Homo sapiens: one gene and its partners. The protein of the gene in region 2 purifies or fractionates together with the protein of the main gene of each other region. This does not show direct contact. Each region holds a gene or a part of one and is shown on either strand. Other genes may lie near its edges.

Region 1 (3,860 bases), on a different chromosome or scaffold from region 2:
AGTGTTAGAAAATTCTCTTCCCGGGACAGTAATTGCCTTCTTGAGTGTGCATGACCAAGACTCTGGAAAGAATGGTCAAGTTGTCTGTTACACACGTGATAATTTACCTTTTAAATTAGAAAAGTCAATAGGTAATTATTATAGATTAGTGACAAGGAAATATTTGGACCGAGAAAATGTCTCTATCTACAATATCACAGTGATGGCCTCAGATCTAGGAACACCACCTCTGTCCACTGAAACTCAAATCGCTCTGCACGTGGCAGACATTAACGACAACCCTCCTACTTTCCCTCATGCCTCCTACTCAGCGTATATCCTAGAGAACAACCTGAGAGGAGCCTCCATCTTTTCCTTGACTGCACACGACCCCGACAGCCAGGAGAATGCCCAGGTCACTTACTCTGTGACCGAGGACACGCTGCAGGGGGCGCCCCTGTCCTCGTATATCTCCATCAACTCTGACACCGGTGTCCTGTATGCGCTGCAATCTTTCGACTATGAGCAGATCCGAGACCTGCAGCTACTGGTAACAGCCAGCGACAGCGGGGACCCGCCCCTCAGCAGCAACATGTCACTGAGCCTGTTCGTGCTGGACCAGAATGACAACGCGCCCGAGATCCTGTACCCCGCCCTCCCCACAGACGGTTCCACTGGCGTGGAGCTGGCGCCCCGCTCCGCAGAGCGTGGCTACCTGGTGACCAAGGTGGTGGCGGTGGACAGAGACTCGGGCCAGAACGCCTGGCTGTCCTACCGCCTGCTCAAGGCCAGCGAGCCGGGACTCTTCTCGGTGGGTCTGCACACGGGCGAGGTGCGCACGGCGCGAGCCCTGCTGGACAGAGATGCGCTCAAGCAGAGCCTCGTGGTGGCCGTCCAGGACCATGGCCAGCCCCCTCTCTCCGCCACTGTCACGCTCACCGTAGCCGTGGCTGACAGCATCCCCGAAGTCCTGACCGAGTTGGGCAGTCTGAAGCCTTCGGTCGACCCGAACGATTCGAGCCTTACACTCTATCTCGTGGTGGCAGTGGCTGCCATCTCCTGTGTCTTCCTCGCCTTTGTCGCTGTGCTTCTGGGGCTCAGGCTGAGGCGCTGGCACAAGTCACGCCTGCTCCAGGATTCCGGTGGCAGATTGGTAGGCGTGCCTGCCTCACATTTTGTGGGTGTTGAGGAGGTACAGGCTTTCCTGCAGACCTATTCCCAGGAAGTCTCCCTCACCGCCGACTCGCGGAAGAGTCACCTGATCTTTCCCCAGCCCAACTACGCAGACATGCTCATCAGTCAGGAGGGCTGTGAGAAAAATGATTCTTTGTTAACATCCGTAGATTTTCATGAATATAAGAATGAAGCTGATCATGGTCAGGTGAGTTTAGTTCTTTGCTTGCTTTTAATTTCCAGATGAATTTTATTTGGCATAAATTATGTTTTGAAAAACATTGTGAAGATAGTTGAAAATAATTTTTAAGGTGTATCACAGAGTTTTGGGTTTATTTTGGTGGTGTTACTATAAAATTGAACTCTAATAGTCATAGGTTATTGTTTCATTTGCTTTTAAACGACTTGGAAAAGATTGTTCAACCATTTTAAGCCTTCCAGTATTTTATTCCTATTATCACTCATTCACTTAAGAAGTAGCTACCCGTCCATACTGGTAATTTTGCTATTGTTTGTGTGTGTGTGTGTGTGTGTGTGTGTGTGTGTGTGTGTGTGTGTGTGTATCCCAAACTAGAACTTCAGAAAATTATCAAGAAGTCTAAAGCCTTGTTATTAGCTTAGCAAAAGTAAAATATATCTCAGAATTTTTAGGGTTATGTTTAGCATTTGAACCTGTAACTAGGCTCTTGTAGATTTCTTCACTTTAAACCTCTTTTCTGAGCCCTGTTTCTGTACCAGTGCCCTTCAAAACTTTAATACTTCTTACCATCCTTCAAAACATGAACAAACTTTAAAGATGGATCTTGGTGGGAGATGAGACTGGTTACTAAATATTAAGTATGTGAGTCAGTGGTCACCTGGGCTCCATGCCCATGGAGACATGAAATCTAAAGCCTAGAATGTCCATTGCTCCCCCAAACAAAAAACAAAAGCAAAAACATTAGATCTGAATTAAAATGTAATTTTAAACTGTTGAAAGTGACTTTTGTAAAATATGTAAGAACATATTTCAATACAATTCCAATTAGCTGTTTCGGTTGTGCATTGATGTGAAGTGGTGAGAATGTTGATATTAAGAACCAATGTTTCAGGTACACAAGTTCTAAATAAGCTGATCAATTCAATTAAAGTTATTCAGTCTTGGCTGGACACAGTGCCTCATGTCTGAAATCCCAGCACTTTGGGAGGCTGGGGCAGGAGGACCGCTTGAGCCCCGGGGGTTTGAAACTGCAGTGAGCTATGATCATGCCACTGCACTCCAGCCTAGGTGGCAGAACTAGACCCTGTCTCTAAAAAAACTATTATTAGGCCGGGTGCGGTGGCTCACGCCTGTAATCCCAGCACTTTGGGAGACTGAGGTGGGTGGATCACCTGAGGTCAGGAGTTCAAGATCAGCCTGGCAAACATGGTGAAACCCCGTCTCTACTAAAAACTACAAAAATTAGCCAGGCATGGTGGCATGCGCCTGTGGTCCCAGCTACTCGGGAGGCTGAGGCAGAAGAATCACTTGAACCCGGGAGGTGGAGGTTGCAGTGAGCCTCGATCCTGTCACTGCACTCCAGCCTGGGCAACAGGGTGAGACTCCGTCTCAAAAAAAAAAAAAACTAATATTAATAGTAAAAACTCGGTATAGGCTATCCATTATTGTATTCCTGCATACCTTCTTGTAGCATTTGAATAAAGCTAATACCTGAATTGATTGTTGTAAGGTAGAAGTAGATGACCCAATAAATGTTTGTTATTAATGAAAAGGACATTTCCTAAGGATTGTGTAGTGTTCTACTGTATGGTGCATATTCAGTGGAGTGGGAGTTAACTTCATAGTTTGTGTACCATTTGGATGCACATTTGAGAGGACAACATATTATTGGCACTTTGCAATTTTAAAAACTCGGATGAAAGTTGCCCTGGTAGGAAAGAAAATCCTTACTCTCCCTAAAAATGTTGGCTAGTTGTTTTTATTAATCTGACAAATGGACTAAAGAAGGTTGACCAATGTCCACAAATTTATGTAAATGAACTTATGAGCTTCATTTATCCAATTCCAAAGTCATTTCAGATAGGATAATAATGCAATCCACTAGAATATCCCTTTGTACCTTGTATTGCAGAATAGATAAGCATTTCCCCAATAACTCTTAAGAATGAATTTATGTACTGTAAAAGATATGACATAAGAGAAGTATTTTGAGATATGAAGAAGAGCAACGTAGTAGGGTATATCATTTCTTAGCTACATCATATGGGCAGTATACTTGAATGAATATTTCCTGAAGTAGAAGAGTAAAGAAAAATTATTTTTATAAAGAATGTTAATATAGTCAGGAAGAGGAGATGTTTGGGGATTGGTATAAAATTGCCACAACTTTACAAAATAGTTTTAAATAGTATAGATTTCCCTAATATGTGTAATATAAAACACTAGAAATATTGGGGAGTTGGAAATCATAGAAATGAACAGAAGAATGATAAAATTGTTTCCATAGCTAATAAAAAATGAATTTTTGAAATCAGTATAGTATGAAGGCTCTGAGAGCAAGAACTGTATCATATTAATTATTATATTGCCAGTGACAAGGGCAATACTTAGTTCTAGCTAAGAGTTCAAGGTATGTTTGCAGAATGGTGAAAGAATGGACCAATGTATGCAGGTTTGTATAAAAACCCAACGTGATATTTCTAACAATTTGGAAAACAGAGAAAGATAC
Region 2 (2,853 bases):
GGCAGCAGAATTAGCACTTTCTGTAATTTCAGTGTAGTCAATGAGCGTCAATGATATTTTGAGGCATTGATGATACCATAATGGGACATGAAAGATCTGTGATTTTCGTTAGTAACAAAGTTGCAGGTGCTGCCAACGCTAATGATAGTTTGTTGTCTGCATTCATGGTCAAAGAAATGCTACATCTCAGTCAGCGCTTGGGTAGAACAAAGATGTGCGTTTTTCCCCATTCACGTTTGCAGATCTGCTGTCAGTTGACCTGTGCTAAGAACCTGAGTTACCTGATAGATGAGACATTTGCTCTTCCCCCCACCCCCTCCATTTAATTGAGCATTTCTCAGCAACCCTTTTAACTGGGTTAACTGTAAAAATGGTGAGTCATGGGTGTTACTGATCACAAGCATGCAGTTTGTTTACATGTTGACTTCTTTGTATCAGCGAAACCTTCACGGCTCTTCTAAATTCCTCTGATTTTGGTTGCCCAAATTATAATGACCGACTTCAGAGTATACTTTCACATGTTATCTCACTGATACTTAGAAGCCCCCTGCATTGGGCTGTTCCGTTCTCCATTTCAGAGGTAGGGTTGCAGTTCCTAAAGTGCAGCTCTGGGGCCTGGGTCCCGCCGTCCCCCTGTGCACCCTTTCCACCCCTTTCCTTGCTTACTGTCCTGTTTGTTGTTTGGTGTTCACATGGGCAGAGACATCCAGCAGGAGGCCTTCCGAGCCAGTCACACCCACTGGCGGGGCGTTTCCTTTGTCTACAACCACTACCTGTTCTCTGGCTGCTTCCTGGTGGTGCTGCTGGCCATCCTGCTGTACCTGCTGCGGCTGCGGCGCATCCACAGGCGCACTCCCCGGAGCAGCTCGGCCGCCGCCCTCTGGATGGAGGAGGGCCTTCCCGCCCAGAATGCCCCGGGGACCTTGTGATCCAGCTCACAGCTCCACGAAGACTCAAAAGGAAAAGCCATTTTTGCCTCAGGGTTTCTCCTCTTTATTTTCCTGTGGTTTTGTTTTTTCTTTCCCTTTTTTGTTCCTCCAAACAAAAACAAAATGCAGGCCGAGCGCGGTGGCTCACGCCTGTAATCCCAGCACTTTGGGAGGCCGAGGCGGGCGGATCATGAGGTCAGGAGATCGAGACCATCCTGGCTAACACGGTGAAACCCCGTCTCTACTAAAAATACAAAAAATTAGCTGGGTGTGGTGGCGGGCGCCCGTAGTCCCAGCTACTCAGGAGGCTGAGGCAGGAGAATGGCATGAACCTGGGAGGCAGAGCTTGCAGTGAGCCGAGATCACACCACTGCACTCCAGCCTGGGCGACAGAGTGAGACTCCGTCTCAAAAAAAAAAAATGCATTGTTTATAAGCCCTGCTGTCTAGAAGTATTGCGTTTAGCCATTTTGAGTACAGCATTAAATTGAGGAGTGGGGAAGAGGGAAATTCACTTGATTTTTGCTGCACAGGATATCTGCCAAAAATAAATGAGATTTCTGGGGTTTCTCTAAGGAATGTTAAATTTAAACACATGCACTTTGATACTGGAGGGAGGTGGAAAGATGCATTCTGTCAGTGGAGAGGGGACTGAATAGTGATGCTTTCATAGAACCAAAAAACTTACTGCCTGAAATGATAATCCTCTTTTTTCTCTATCTTGAAAGCTCTAACCTGAAGAGGGTGATTTTTTTTTTTATTTATTGTTCAGGTCTGTTACTGTATATGTTTTCTTTGCAAATTTAAATTTTTTAAACCATTTATATCCAAAACAGAGAAACATGGGCACCAGGAGATAACCATTTATAAAAGTGATAGTGAACTATCGACTACAGCTTTGTGCGAGTGTGTGAAAAATCCCAAGAAACCAGCGTGAGGGGAGGCAATGCTGGTTCTTTAAAAACACACACTTCAGAATTTACTGGTACATTTTATTTAGAAAAATCCTCGTTACTGTTATCTTTTCCTGACCGCAGGTAATTACGCTCCTTATTCCATATTTCAGTGGCATTAGAACACTGTGGTTTTGAAAGAATTGGAAATTCCTAGTTTCACCAGTTTCGGTTTTATTGGAACTAGAGCACATGCCCACTTCTTGCTCAGTATTCCTCAGTGTTTCTGCTTAATCGTGCCTCAGTTTCTTCCAGCTTCCAATTGGTGTTTCCCCCACCCCCCTTAATTAAAAGTCATCTCAGCTTTTAATCGTACTGGGAGACCCCATGCACAGCCTGCCGAGTCCTCTTCCTAACCGCATTGACTGAGGCTGTTGCTGGCAGCACCACTGTAAATCCAGAAGGGAAGAGTCTGCATCCAATACAGGAAATAAATTCACATTTTGAAGGAAAAAATTCGACAATTTAAGCCAAAATCTAAAAAGGACAATTGGATTGGCATATGTGAGATTGGTGTTTTTTCACCTATTTATTTAGTTGAGAAGTTTGGGGAATTCTCGTACAGTTTTTTTAGGTGGAGTTTGTTTTGTGCGAGTGTCTGTGTGTGCTGTTCCCTAACTCCAGAACAGTTAAATTCCTGTAGTTGGTAGCAGATTAGTACCCAGAAGTGGGGTTGTTGCTATAACAGATAACTGAGGATATTATAAAAGTGGCTTTGGAACTAGGTACTGGGCAGAGGCTGGGAGAGTTTGGAGAAACAGGAGAGAAAAGGCCTGTATTGCCATGAACTGAGCATTAGGGGCAGTTCTGCTGAGGGATCAGAAGAGAAGACCAAGGGAATTCTGTCCCAGTTGTGGCTCAAACTGCCTCAGGTGCAGCTTAACCTGCGTCTCTGGAAGGTAAAATGCATCTGATCCTTGAGGCAAGAGCTGTGGGGGCATGGCTCCCTCACCTGGATTTCAAAGCGTGTTA
Region 3 (4,298 bases), on a different chromosome or scaffold from region 2:
TGGCTCCTTTAACTGTCCGCTCTAGGAGGGAAGCATGCCAAATGTCAGGTCTCACTCTGACTTTGTTCCAGTCCATAGCTAGAAAATGACCCATAGAGGAAGATCTACAGATGACAGAATACTGGGAGATGAAGAGAAAGGACGTTTTAGTGAGTGCTTTTTTTGCACATGAGGCAATAGATTTCAAATTCCTGTGGAAGAAATGTGAGAACCTGGGAAGAGTGAATATTCAGAACTGAGCAGCAGAGGCAATGACACAGCATGGAAAGATTTCCTCTGATCCTTCTACCTTCTCTTTTACTGAAGTGAATTTGTTGTCTCTGTGTTGCCTCTATAGCAGTACAAGAGGAAACTTGGGGACACAGAAGAACAGAAGTCTAAGGAGTCTTATATTTAAGGAAGATAAGCTGCAGTCATTGAAATTGCTGGTTATTGTAAGATAAATCCCAGACTCCCACATTTTGCTTAATGACAGCAGATTTTTTTTTTTTTTTAACTGCAAAGCATTAATGGAATCCAAATTCCAGCCTGGCTTAGGAGATCAACAGTAACGCTCTTGATTTAATGGTTTTGCAGACTCTTGAAGACATTGTCATCCATTAAAGAAAAAATTTTAAATTACTCTTGAAAGAAAATGTCTTGGGTGATAAATGTAAAAGATTTGAAGCAAGATTAGAAAAAGCTTGAGAGAAGAATCTCTTTAAAAATTTTACCAGATTTTCCCCATTGTCGCCAAAATGGGTCAAATAATAGATTTGCCTACAGCTTCATGGAGACTATTTTTTTAAACAGAGCATTTTAAACATTTAAATATTGGTTATTTGCCAAGGCACACACTGAAAATAAGGGCCACTTGGCCGAGAGCAGAATTGAGTCTTGGATCCCAGGATGCTGGTTTTAGGCTTGCTCCCGGAAAGAGGGCAGCATTTGCCATCCCCCTCCTTTTGCCCTAGGAGTTGAGCACTTTCTGCAGTACTTAAGAGTGTCCAGGGAAGATGTGGGAGTCAGGTGAATAGTTCCCATCGCCAGTAACCCCAGAGCGCCTCCCCCTGCGTTGTTTCCTTTTAATGTTAGATCCGCCGCCTGGGTGCCCATACTTAGCTAAGGCCCCTCAGTTTATTTTCCTGAATTGCGCTTGGAGATCTTTTCCTGGGGAGCTGATAGCCAGACTTCTAGGGGCTTGACTGCTTTTCCCAGACTAATCTCCTTAAAGACCCGTTAAGCAGGGGAGAGACGGTGGAGACTGGATGAACTGGACAGTGGGGGTAGGGAGAAAGGGAGTGGCCGTGTTCCTGCGGTCCGCTGGGATCCGGCAGGTCCAGGGTGAAGGAGATGGGGCTGGAGAGGCTGAGCAGTCCGGGTTCGCTGTCCGCCACTTCGGCGCGGAATCAGAGCAGGACTTGCTGAGCCCTCCTACCGCTCCCTTTCCCCCTCCCCCTCTGTCTTCCCTTCTGTTTCCTTTTCCCTCCCCCTGGAGCTGTAGCGGCAGCAGCAGCAGGAAGCCGAGCCGGGTTGAGCGACTCGGAGGCGAGCGGAGGAGCTGGAATATGGGGAGTCAGCGAGGACGGTGGGGCCAGGAGCCCTTGGGAGGGCCTACGGAGGGAGCGGCCCCAGGCGCTTTCTAGAGCGTGAGCGGTGGGGGAGCAGGCGCAGGGTGGCACGAGCGGAGGCGGGGCCCGGGCGTGGGGCACGGCTGGGGAAGCTGCCGCCTCCGGCCCTGCCCGGCTGCCTCCGCCGCGGCCAGTGGCTATGGAGCAGGCGGGCACCAGACCTGCGGCGACAGAGCATCCACGGCTCCGGCGGCCCATGCCCTGGCTGCTGCTACTGCCTCTCCTGCTGCTGTTGCTGCTGCTGCTACCTGGCCCTGCGGCCTCCCAGCTGCGATACTCTGTGCCAGAGGAGCAGGCACCCGGCGCGCTCGTGGGCAACGTGGCTCGCGCGCTGGGGCTTGAGCTGCGGCGCTTGGGGCCGGGTTGCTTGCGCATCAACCATCTGGGTGCGCCCAGTCCGCGCTACCTGGAGCTGGACCTGACGAGTGGAGCGCTCTTCGTCAACGAGCGCATTGATCGGGAGGCGCTGTGTGAGCAGCGGCCTCGCTGCCTGCTCAGCTTGGAAGTGCTGGCGCACAACCCCGTGGCGGTGAGCGCCGTTGAGGTGGAAATATTGGACATCAACGACAACTCACCGCGTTTCCCGCGGCCCAACTACCAGCTTCAGGTAAGCGAATCGGTGGCGCCTGGAGCGCGCTTTCACATAGAGAGTGCGCAGGACCCCGACGTGGGCGCCAACTCAGTACAGACCTACGAGCTCAGCCCCAGCGAGCACTTCGAGCTGGACCTTAAGCCCCTGCAGGAGAACAGTAAAGTGCTTGAGCTGGTGCTGCGTAAGGGCCTAGACCGGGAGCAGGCAGCCTTGCACCACCTGGTTCTCACAGCCGTGGATGGGGGCATCCCAGCCCGCTCGGGTACGGCACAGATCTCTGTGCGTGTCCTGGACACTAACGACAACTCTCCTGCCTTTGACCAGTCCACTTATCGCGTCCAGCTACGGGAGGACTCACCCCCAGGCACATTGGTGGTGAAGCTGAATGCCTCAGACCCGGATGAGGGCTCCAATGGTGAGCTCAGGTACTCCTTGAGCAGCTACACGTCGGACCGGGAGAGGCAGCTCTTCAGCATAGATGCCAGTACCGGGGAAGTGCGAGTAATTGGGGGGCTGGATTATGAGGAAGCCTCCTCCTACCAGATCTATGTGCAGGCGACTGACCGGGGTCCAGTGCCCATGGCAGGTCACTGCAAGGTGCTGGTGGACATCGTGGACGTGAATGACAATGCCCCAGAGGTGGTGCTCACGGACCTGTATAGCCCAGTGCCTGAGAATGCTACACCCAACACCATTGTGGCCGTTCTCAGTGTCAATGACCAAGACTCAGGCCCCAACCGGAAAGTGAGCCTGGGTCTGGAGGCCACACTGCCTTTCCGACTGAATGGCTTTGGAAACTCCTATACACTGGTGGTGAGCGGCCCACTGGACCGAGAGCGGGTGGCTGTCTACAACATCACGGTGACAGCCACAGATGGGGGAATACCGCAGCTCACATCCCTGCGTACACTGAAGGTTGAGATCTCTGACATCAATGACAATCCACCAAGCTTCCTGGAGGACTCCTATTCCATCTACATACAGGAGAACAATTTGCCAGGTGTGTTGCTCTGTACTGTGCAAGCCACAGACCCAGATGAAAAGGAGAATGCAGAGGTGACCTACTCCCTTCTGGAGAGGGAGATTCAAGGGCTGCCAGTCACCTCCTATGTCTCCATTAACAGTGCCAGTGGCAGCCTTTATGCTGTCAACTCCTTTGACTATGAGAAGTTTCGGGAGTTCTTTGTGACTGTGGAGGCTCAGGACAAGGGGAGCCCACCACTGAGCAGCACTGTGACTGCCAACGTATATGTGGTGGACATGAATGACCATGCCCCTCACATTCTGTACCCTACCTCAACCAACTCGTCAGCAGCCTTCGAGATGGTGCCTCGAACTGCCCCTGCTGGCTACCTGGTCACCAAAGTCATAGCTATGGACTCAGACTCTGGGCAAAATGCTTGGCTTTTTTACCATCTAGCCCAGACTTCTGACCTGGACCTCTTTAAGGTAGAGCTGCACACAGGAGAAATTAGGACTACCAGGAAGATGGGAGATGAGAGTGGTAGCACTTTCAACCTGACCGTGGTGGTCCGAGATAATGGAGAGCCATCACTATCAGCCTCTGTGGCCATTACAGTAGCTGTGGTGGATAGGGTTTCCAAAATCCTCCCTGACACTCAGAGGCATGTTAAGAGCCCTCGGACATACTCTGAAATTACCCTTTATCTAATAATAGCATTAAGCACAGTGTCTTTTATATTTCTTTTGACAATCATCATTTTGAGCATCATCAAGTGCTACCGCTACACTGCGTATGGCACTGCATGCTGTGGAGGCTTCTGTGGAGTAAGGGAAAGGTCCCCTGCAGAACTGTACAAACAAGCCAACAACAATATTGATGCCAGGATACCGCATGGCCTCAAAGTGCAGCCTCACTTCATTGAAGTTCGAGGGAATGGCTCCCTCACCAAGACCTACTGCTACAAGGCCTGTCTGACAGCAGGCTCAGGGAGTGACACTTTCATGTTTTACAATACAGGGGCCCAGACAGGACCAGGGCCTTCGGGAGCCCAAGCAGCAGTGACTGACAGCAGGAATCTCACAGGCCAAAGTGGTCAGAATGCTGGGAACCTGATTATTCTCAAAAATGAGGC
Region 4 (3,860 bases), on a different chromosome or scaffold from region 2:
AGTGTGTGGCAGCTGGAAAATTCGTTTCTCCTTCCCCACAGACCTCCTAGAGGTCATCAGAAAACTAGGGAGCAATGTCTGACTATGCCAACTCTTCCTACTCTACAAACAGATTTAGATGGGTTCATAAAAACTAGATTATTTGATGGGTGTGTGTGTGTGTCTGTGTGTGTGTGTGTGTTTATGGTAGGTGTGTATATACATATGCATCTTATCCCTAATGCTTTAAGCAGAAAAAGAGATGTATTATTTCCATATACAATATTGAGAGTAACTACATTGAATATATTCATATGTATACTATGTAATTAAATAATTACTAATAAATATGTGTCCCATGTGAAAATCTGTTTCCAAGTGAGTAAAGGACCTATGAGCCTTATTTCTTTAAAAAGAAGTATTTAGAAATCTATATGAAAAGAATGCCTCAAACATATTAGGTCTAACTTAACTATGTGAATGAGTATTCTCTTGCCCAAAAAGCTAACTCAACAGTTAGCTTAGTTGAGCTAACTCAACTAAGTCATCATATAAAATTTTCAAAACCAAAGCCTCAGAAATTAAAAAAAACTATATCTTTATCTTGCTTAGCTAAAATCATAATGTAATTAGTTTTCTTTAATTTAAAAATGCTCTTAATTAAATCTTTGCTTAGTAACAAAAAATGAAAAATAAAATGACATATTTATATGTCTGATCTGCCATTAGAGGTTAAGTTTTGAATACTTACCTAATGATACATTTATATAATTGATGGCAATTGTTCTCAATACTGAGACTTGCTTTAGCAATTGCAATTGTTTAGCTGATAAAATCACATTTGTGCTTTTGTTTTAAACTCTAAATGATATTTGAATGTCCTTTTAATAGATAAATAACTCTTTGTGTAGAAATAAAAATAGTAGACTGAAAAGGGATATGGTAATATAATGCTGTCTTTAATAAATCTGATTACTGATAGAAATGAAATACAATATTTGTGGCCTGGAAAATAAACATTATTTTAAAGTGTTCCGGTGATGAGTTTTTATCAATAAAATGTGGCTCCCAAATCCCCAAAGATATGAAAAATTAACATCAAAAAATACATTCACATTCCTAGTTGTTAGATAAGTATTTTGACATTTCCAAATATAACTGGCATCAATTTTTACACTCTGTATTTATGGTTAAAAATTAGAATGTACTTTGTAGGTTTTCACTGATTTCATGTGATTATTTTTCTTTTTGAACAGCAATCTAAAGTGTAAAGGATTTCAGGATCTAAGTAATCATACCAGTGAATCCAAAGATTATTTCTGCTGTTTTTTTACCACAGTAAAATATTATATTCAACGTATTTTCTCTTTACTTACTTCATCCTTTTTGTCTACCAAAATATTTCATTAATGACATAATTTTGATGGAAGTAATAATTAACTTTTAAATTTTTTTCATGGTGATATAATCACCTTGAAAATTGGAAAAAGTTTTAGAGCTCCTAAGTTTTAATATGACTTATATCTTAAAATAATAAATTAAAATTATCTAAATTTAAAGGTTTGTAGATCACTAAAAAAAGAAAAAATCTTTCCTTTTTAAAATATATATTTTTAAAATATGTATCTTTTGTCATATAAATCAGAGTTGACAAATACTACATGTGAATCAAAGTTTACAAATGCAAATTCAAGAGAAAAAAGATGAAAATACAGTACGAGTGCATTGCAAATTTCATTTCTTGTGCCTTATGAGGAAAAATTAATTTCAGTTTCATCCTCCAAATAGCCTGCTCTGTAATAAAATTGTAAGATTTCTTAAACTAAAATCTAATAGAAACCAATTCTTTGATACAGTCCTTAGATAACATTAGTCAAAAGTGCTACAAAGTAAAGAAAAATTTGGTTTTGCAATGTCTCCAAGAAACACCAATTACAGGAATAGTCTCTACATGTTAGATCCCCGTATTCTGTAAAGGAGTCTCAGGATTATACAGCAAACTGGAGTCAGGAATGGACTTAGGAAAAGAAACATTCAATAAGGGCCAGAGATGTGGTACGATAAGACCCTTAGTTGCCCTCCTAAACCTTCAGCTCTGTATATTCACATAGCAACCTTCCATAAAATAAAAATTCAGGTTTATATGCCACCTCCATTGAAGTGATATATTTTTGCAAAGTGGGGATGTAAGTTTGACATCACTCTTGCTGAAGAATGGCGAAATATGTCACATTCAGAGCTTTCTAAAGTTAGAAATTTAGTCAATGGAAACTGAAAAAGAAACTTGAGAACTGTCTTCTCTATAACATCTTGCCTATTAAATAAATTTAATAATTGGATGTATATTCTAAATGATGTGCTCTTGCCAATGCAACAGTAATGTATGGATAGTTTTTATGATATTTACTCTATATGATTCCAACATGTACCCCTTCACAAACTCCTTAGGAATTGCTGTCATTTTGGGGGACCACTTTCCTCCAAAGAGTATGACACATACAATCTTTATTCCACCTCTTAATAGACATTCCATATCTCAAAAATTCAACATTTATCCCCAATCTTTATATGATTTCGGATGCTACCTCCAAACCCCTTTTAAAAATACTTCAAAATGCCCCTTTAGATCTGTGAACACATTTTAGTATTTTTATAAATAAATATTAATTCCCAATTTACTGTATTTCTTTTCTGATATATTTACTTTAATGTCTTTTACCCCCATTTGAAGTCTGATTTTGGTCTTTTTCAACTTTTAATTTCACTGCATGTGCTTCTTGCCCAATATTCTCTTAGAACCTCCGGCAGCCTCCTGCTCTGAATGTTTACCTTTCTGTTCATGCTTTGACACAGCTGCTTTCTCTTTGTCCTCCTTTTCTTTGGGTTTTGATGGTGTTTTCTGTACTTCTTTTACTTTTGCAGCTGTTTGCTTCACTTTCTCCTGTTTTCCACCTTTCACTTCCTTTTTAGTCTTTTCTTCACTCTTTTCTGCAGTCTTAGCTTTCTTCTGTTCTGTATAAAGTTAAAAGATGTTGAAATACTTTTGTTTATTTACAAACATAATGTTTCATCTGTACTATGTCATTAAGGAAAATTGGAAAAGAAAGAGGGAAGAAAGGTAAGTCACAAGTGTTTATGTTAAGAACAGTATTTTTCAGGAAAACAATGAAAAATACTGTTCTTAACATAAACACTTGTGACTTACCAGAGTTTTATACAGTTTATGAAGTGCTATATTAGATAGACTACTAAAAGTGTTATGGCTTTTAATTTGTACATGAAAACACTATTTTTTAAGGCAATAGTAACTTAGCATGTCAACAAGGAGGCATTTGTAGCATGCAGGGGATGGATGTACAGGAATTTCTGTGAAAGACAATTTCCATACCAAACAGCCCAGTGAAGTAGTCTCCTTTTATAAGCACATGATCATTTTGCTTGATAACTGAAAGATCTTAAGGGTCATTCAAGAAACTGAAATGCCAACAAAGTCTTTTTTAAAGACAACAATTAGTAATGCAAGTGTAAAATTATCGCATTGGTGTTGACTAACAGAAATAAAACAATGAAATCCATTAGAAGATAACTGAAAGACCTATAGTCTAATGATTTGGCCTTAGAAAAACTGAAAGTGAAGAAATTCAGATATTGGCTCCTGTTTATCTTAAGTCAGCGATAATTCTACTAGTTTTTAAAGCCCTTAAACATATCATGGGAAATTCAAAGGGCTATAAATAAAAATATATATGAATAGATATATAAATTAGAACATATATATATTACACACATATATTCTTAATTTGATATTATCCGTATTTTGGAAGAGGGAACTGTGATGCAAATAACTAGTCTGTGGATCATTCAAGCATCTTTTAAAAAGC

The links. The genes of interacting proteins can lie anywhere in the genome.
Region 1: the proteins of ENTPD4 (region 2) and PCDHGB4 purify together in Homo sapiens (co-immunoprecipitation; one large-scale study listed by IntAct). This does not show direct contact.
Region 3: the proteins of ENTPD4 (region 2) and PCDHAC2 purify together in Homo sapiens (co-immunoprecipitation; one large-scale study listed by IntAct). This does not show direct contact.
Region 4: the proteins of ENTPD4 (region 2) and TRDN purify together in Homo sapiens (co-immunoprecipitation; one large-scale study listed by IntAct). This does not show direct contact.

The regions. Positions count from the first base shown.
Region 1 is NC_000005.10:141,393,878-141,397,737, forward strand, and holds part of PCDHGB4 (protocadherin gamma-B4 isoform 1 precursor), read left to right. Parts: coding exon of another isoform or gene 1-1,399; exon of another isoform or gene 1,400-2,906; intron 2,907-3,860. Other genes in the region: PCDHGA8 (protocadherin gamma-A8 isoform 1 precursor), read left to right, coding at 1-1,360. UniProt on the Homo sapiens protein: Potential calcium-dependent cell-adhesion protein. May be involved in the establishment and maintenance of specific neuronal connections in the brain.
Region 2 is NC_000008.11:23,431,002-23,433,854, reverse strand, and holds part of ENTPD4 (ectonucleoside triphosphate diphosphohydrolase 4), read left to right. Parts: intron 1-700; coding exon 701-929; 3' UTR 930-2,853.
Region 3 is NC_000005.10:140,965,018-140,969,315, forward strand, and holds the start of PCDHAC2 (protocadherin alpha-C2 isoform 1 precursor), read left to right. Parts: upstream 1-1,458; 5' UTR 1,459-1,749; coding exon 1,750-4,298. UniProt on the Homo sapiens protein: Potential calcium-dependent cell-adhesion protein. May be involved in the establishment and maintenance of specific neuronal connections in the brain.
Region 4 is NC_000006.12:123,500,911-123,504,770, forward strand, and holds part of TRDN (triadin), read right to left. Parts: intron 2,992-3,860; coding exon 2,809-2,991; coding exon of another isoform or gene 2,741-2,808; exon of another isoform or gene 918-2,740; intron 1-917. UniProt on the Homo sapiens protein: Contributes to the regulation of lumenal Ca2+ release via the sarcoplasmic reticulum calcium release channels RYR1 and RYR2, a key step in triggering skeletal and heart muscle contraction.